Linked DNA regions of Homo sapiens: region 2 is linked to region 1. The links come from fine-mapping of genetic effects on gene expression. A gene starts in region 1. The other region holds a variant in brackets. All regions are shown on one strand. Distances are from middle to middle. Region 1 holds the start of RTKN2 (rhotekin 2). Region 2 overlaps RTKN2 (rhotekin 2).

The links.
Region 2: its variant is fine-mapped to the expression of RTKN2 in whole blood (TOPMed, PIP above 0.99).

The regions. Positions count from the first base shown.
Region 1 is chr10:62,267,604-62,270,521 of GRCh38, reverse strand. RTKN2 (rhotekin 2) reads left to right here and starts at 1,678. Exons shown (of 12, transcript NM_145307.4): 1 at 1,678-1,971. The coding sequence starts at 1,912. All of the region lies in intron 1 of LINC02621 (long intergenic non-protein coding RNA 2621), which reads right to left. RefSeq lists a silencer at 1,597-1,926.
Region 2 is chr10:62,210,031-62,212,948 of GRCh38, reverse strand. All of the region lies in intron 9 of RTKN2 (rhotekin 2), which reads left to right. Among named protein-coding and RNA genes, the nearest start is that of LINC02621, 48 kb to the left of the region's middle. The variant TAAGG/G (reference allele first, on the strand shown) is at 1,171.

The DNA.
Region 1 (2,918 bases):
CCTGGGGACCTCTCCCGGTGTATAATAAAAACAGGACCACATCATAACTTCTTCTCCCAAGAGAAAGGTCTCTTGTAACAACTGTATTCTACAGATAATTACTAAATATGATCTTGCCTAATCTCTTTCTTCTAGTATCATAAATAAATGTATCTCCAGTTAAATATCTGGTTTTAACTCATCAAATACTCCTCTATCAGTGTCCAATTCTAAACTGGTTGACTCACCTCTGTTTTAATGAAGTGCTGGCTTCTACATGTATTTTGATCTGCAACTGAGAGCTGTATGTGTTGTAAGTACTATGTGTCTGATGATGGGCTCGCGGTGTGTTTTTCTTTTGAGTCAGGTACTACAGCTAGGCTCATGCAGCCTCATACTGAGTAGGAGATAATTATACCACAAAGTGGTAGCATAAGACAGAGATGTGCATTGGAGGAAAGGGCACATAATGATTCTGAAATTCAGACCTGTGTTTGTAGAAAACGAGGTGAGCTCCGTGTTGATAATTTTGAACACATATTTTATTGTTGTAAGGATATGGGTCATTCATAATGCAAGGGGACCATCATTCCCAACTGGGAAGCTTCTAGTATCACCTAGTCCAAAAGGTCTTAAAGAGGCATTTTACCTATTTGAGGAAGGGTATCCATTATATTTTTAAAGTACATTCTCAAACCAACTGCTTTTAAAAGGGTCTTGCAGTTAAAATGACCACATAATATCCACTACGGGATAAGTGCAAGATTGGTGCAACATTGGGACAACAGACCCAGACAGGGTCTGTCCCAGGCAAATGAAAAAACATGGGCACCTATTTATGGAGGAAAAATGCCCAAGGGTTTCTAGGCGATGAGGGCTGGAGGGTTGATTTGGTAGACTCTTCAAGAAGAGGCTTCCTCTTGCCTTTTCAAGGGGGAAATAAAGATAAACTAGGGACAATGAATTTTAAGGACTTTTCAAGGGTGTGATATCTTTGCTGCTTTCATTTTGATTTTTAAAAATCCCATGTTTCCCTTTATAATTAACAAAATCCATGAATTAAAATGGGTCTTTGTGCTAATCTTTAGGGCAGCAAGAAATGAGGCTCTTGAGAAATAGTACCCCATTTTGCTATCACCTTAGATGTTGGAGAGGGAAAGAGAGGGCGAGAGAGCTGAAAGAAATCCTTCGCAAGAAAACAAAGTAAGTGGACAGAGTAGTTGGCGGGGAACATCTGGGATTATAAACACTGGGGGCAAAGACAAGACCTTGTGAAATGCCTGACATAGTATCTCACGAACCTGATGAATAAAACCATGATATCTGGGTGACCCTGGTGACAACGCTGGGAAAGGTGAGAGGAAACAGAGAGCGCTGTGTTTGAGAGTAATGTTATTGGTTCTTTAGGAACGAGACCGTGGGCTCTTAGTGACGCTGTGGGTTCCTGAGTTGTCTGGGAGTACAGGGACTGCAGCCTCGAGTCTGTCCAGCTACGATCACTTTGGAAGGCCTTCGGTGGGATGCGGGCAGAAAGCTCCCAGTGCAAAGGGCGTGCCACGAAAACCACCAGCCAGAAACCTGAGCTGGGACAGGTGCGCTCCGCCGCCGAAGCTTTCCCCGCGGCCCCTCCCACTCCCGTCCCAGGCCCGCCCACATCCCTGTCCGGGACTTAAGTCCGGCACCGCCGCCCTCTCCCCCGCCCCGCCGCGCTAGAGCCTGGGGTCTCGGCAACTTCCGGCGGCGGGAGCTGCAGAGCGCAAGGCGCGCCCACTGCGCGTGCGCTTCGGCCCGGCTCCTCCTGCGCCCCCGGCCCCTGCGACTGGGACTTGGTACGGCCGGGCGGTTGGCGTCCTCTGCGGCTCCTGCCAGGGGCGGGCTTTTCAAATCTTCCCTTTGAAGGAGTGGCGACGGCCCGGACAGTTCGCGTTGGAGATGGAGGGGCCGAGCCTGAGGGGTCCTGCGCTCCGCCTGGCGGGGCTTCCCACCCAGCAGGTGAGTTGCGGGAGGGACCCTGCCGCGGAAGGTGAGGGAGCCGGGGTTCTGTTCCTCGCGCATTTGCTTTGTGGAGGAGTCGGGAAAGCCTCTCCCCCGCTCCTCTATTTCAGCGGTGGCCAGAAACAAAGGGAGGGATTAGGAGACTGCGCTCTTGGGGCTCTAAAGGGCCTGGACATCGGAACCCCCGAGTTTCTCAGGCAGCTGAGGTCCGGATTGGGAAGGCGGTGCCGGGGTCCAGGCGCGCGTTTGCGGGCGCACCTGTCCGCTGCCCTCCCCAGGCTTTGGACGCCTGTCTTTTTGCAGGTGTAGGTGATGCCGGGGAAATGGGAGCCCCTCGATTCCCAAGAAACCCAGCGAGGCCAGTGGACAGCTGGCTTATTACGGATTTAATGGGAAGCACAGTAATGGAGCGATGTCTACACACAACACAGAACTGGTTGGGGGGAGGGGGTTCGGAGCGGAGTAGAGGCAAACAGCAACCTCTGCACTTTAGAAAAAGTTGAAGGTTTGATACTGGGTTCTTTCTCAAATCATTTGAAAGGAAAGAGGGAGTACACGTGACATTGGATAGAAGTTTGATGTTTGCTTTTGAGCCATGTAAAATGCGTTAGAAACCTTTTTATTTTACTTTTTACTAAACCAACATTATTTCTTGGCAGCATCAGTTATTAAAATGTTACCACTTTTCACTCTTAACCATAACTTTAGGGTCTTAAAAGAAAACTCTGATGTCTTTAAGCTGGACCTTCACTTCTATTTTAATCTCTACCTTCTTTTACCTACTTCAGAAATAGGTTAAGCCATATGAAATTGCCAGTTTTGTAGGTCAAAATTGGTAGAATATTTGCAATTTCATTCATATGGAGGCACCTGATATCTTTGTTTAAAAATCTGGGATTTCCTTAGCAGACACAAAATTATTAGTTTTCAATAATACTGTGAAA
Region 2 (2,918 bases), 58 kb after region 1:
GGTAATATATATTGGAGTTGATATTACTCCCTCCAGGGGTAGCAGATGAGTGTTATCTTCCTCCCTGCCCTACCTTCACTGTCTCATATAGTGATAAATTAATAGGTTTTTATCTATTCAGTGTTTTAAATTACTTGGTTTTTAAATCTAATGTAGATATTTTGATTGTTTTTCTTACCTTGCAGATTTGTAAGGGAGACATGCTATTAGCGTTTTCTTTTTGGTTTTTTGTTTGTTTGTTTGTTTGAGACAGGGTCTGGCCCTGTCTCTCAGGCTGGAGTGCAATGGTGCCATCACAGCTCACTGCAGCCTCCACCTCCCAGACACAAGGGATCCTCCCACCTTAACCTCCCTAGTAGCTGGGACTACAGGTACGTGCCACCACACCTGGCTAATTTTTGTATTTTTTGTAGAGACAGGGTTTCACCATGTTACCCAGGCTGGTCTCAAACTCCTCGGCTCAAGCAATTCTGCCTGCCTCAGCCTCCCAAAGTGCTGGGATTGCAAGTATGAGCCACCATACCCAGTCTCTTAGTATATTCTTTTTTTTTCCTATTTATTTATTTATTTATTTATTTTTGAGACAGAGTCTTACTCTGTTGCCCAGGCTGGATTGCAGTGGTGCCATCTTGGCTCACTGCAACCTCCACCTCCCAGGTTCCAGCTATTCTCCTGCCTCAGCCTCCTGAGTAGCTGGGATTATAGGCACCTACCACCATGCCCGGCTAATTTTTGAAGTTTTCGCTGTGCCCTGTTGGTAGTGCCTACAAAACAGCTAGCTACTGGCCATAACTATTATTTACCTAAAAGTTTTAATTACCCCATATATATATATTTTTTTTTTAAGTAGAGATGGAGTTTCACCATGTTGCCCAGGGTGGTCTCGAACAATGTATTCTTAAATAAACAAAGGATAAAAACCAGTTTGGTATTTTCTGATACAGCAGGTAAGGATCAAGTAAAACTTTTAAGAATAGTGTTCCTCGGCTGGGTGCGGTAGCTCACGCCTGTAATCCCAGCACTTTGGGAGGTCAGCACGGGCGGATCAGGAGATCAGGAGATCAAGACCATCCTGGATAACAGGGTGAAACCTCATCTCTACTAAAAACACAAAAAATTAGCCAGGCATGGGGGCACACGCCTGTAGTCCCAGTTACTCGGGAGGCTAAG[TAAGG/G]CAGGATAATTGCTTGAACTTGGGAGGTGGAGGTTGCAGTGAGCCGAGATTGTGCCACTGCACTCCAGCCTGGGTGACAGAGTGAGACTCCATCTCAAGAAAAAAGAATAGTGTTTCTCTTTTAGTTTTTAGTATATTTCTAATGGTCTCTAAGATCTTTAAGCTTAATAATGTTAAACATTAAATACAAATCAGAGTTTTTTGTCTTTTGATTGTCTTTCTTCTTTTCTCATGAAAATAATTTTCCTTAATGCTACTTAAAAATTATTTGAAAACATAAATTTCACAATTGCTAAGGTATATAAATAATAGTTCTGTTATTTAGATCACAGGATCTGTTCTCAAGCTATAATTCTTGTCCTTCTAAATGGCATTTCTTGTAAGGCTAAGTTAGTTCATTAATTTTCATAGGGAGCCATCTGTGGAAATAGTCACATTAAGGGAAGAAAAGCCTAAGAGCTATTCCCCTCCCATTGTCAATCCAAATTTGAAAGGGTGATTTACTTCAAAGTGATTGCTTCAAATTCAGAAAACTTCACAAGAATGTTCTTGAGCAAGACATTCTCAATAACAGGTACTTAACTGAATTTCCTACACATTATAGAAAGCATTTTGTTAACTAAAGCTTTATCCATTGTCAATATGGTGAGGGGTGTGACGGTTAAAAAAAAGTGTGAGTCTTTGAGATCAAGCCTTTTCTTGTTTTAAATATTATATACATCATTCATTTTAATAAAATCTGTACTAAACAAGTCAATAACACTATTTAGTGTAGTAGACTTTGGATAAATTGTTTTGAAAATACTTTTAACTATTATATTTATCATAGAACCTAGAAAGCAAAATTATTATGAAGCACATGGGATTTTAATCCAATTATATTAGTTTCCTTAATATCTAATCATATCAACTATTCAGATTTTTAAAAGTAAATATAGCAAAAATAATTTTTCAAACATTTTCCTGTAGGAGTTTACATCTGATTTAATTAATATAAATTTAAAATAATTATATTAAACTGATACTAATCATACCTCATGGTTGGTTTAACTTACAGCTATGCATTACATATTTCAAACATTCCTTGTCGTATACATGAAGATATCCTTTTTTGTCATTAGAGTATATATAAAGTCTAAAGCTTGTTTTTAGCACCAACATTTTGTCTTCATTGCTGATTAACAGGACTTCAGACGAAGCACTTTTCAAATAACTCATTTATCTTTACAGCATGTTTGTAAGGAAGATGTGAGATATCTGCATTACAGCCAAGAAAGAGGCATTAATAATAGACTGACTTTGGTTTTTGTGTTTGTATTTTATTTTTTAATTATTTTCTTTGGAAAAAAATTCAAGGTAATTTATACATAGAATAGTATAAATGAACCCATGTGTACTCTCACACATTGCCCCCACATTAGATATATTTTGAAGCAAATCCTAGAGACCATATCATTTTACTTGTAAATATTCCAATTGTCACACTTAAGAAAATTTATGGTTTTATATATAAGTTGTCATATGTAGATATAATTATATGTAGTTAATATATCGTTAAAAATCCAGGCAGTCTTTAAGATCCCTAGTCTCAATTTTTGTAAGTTTTTGAGTTAGGATCCAAATAAGGGCCACATATTATGGTTGATTGATTAGGTCTTTTAAGTCTCTTTAGAAAAAGGAATGCTCATACATTGTTGGTGGGGGTGTAAATTAGTTCAGCCATTGTGAAAGACAGTGTGTTGAT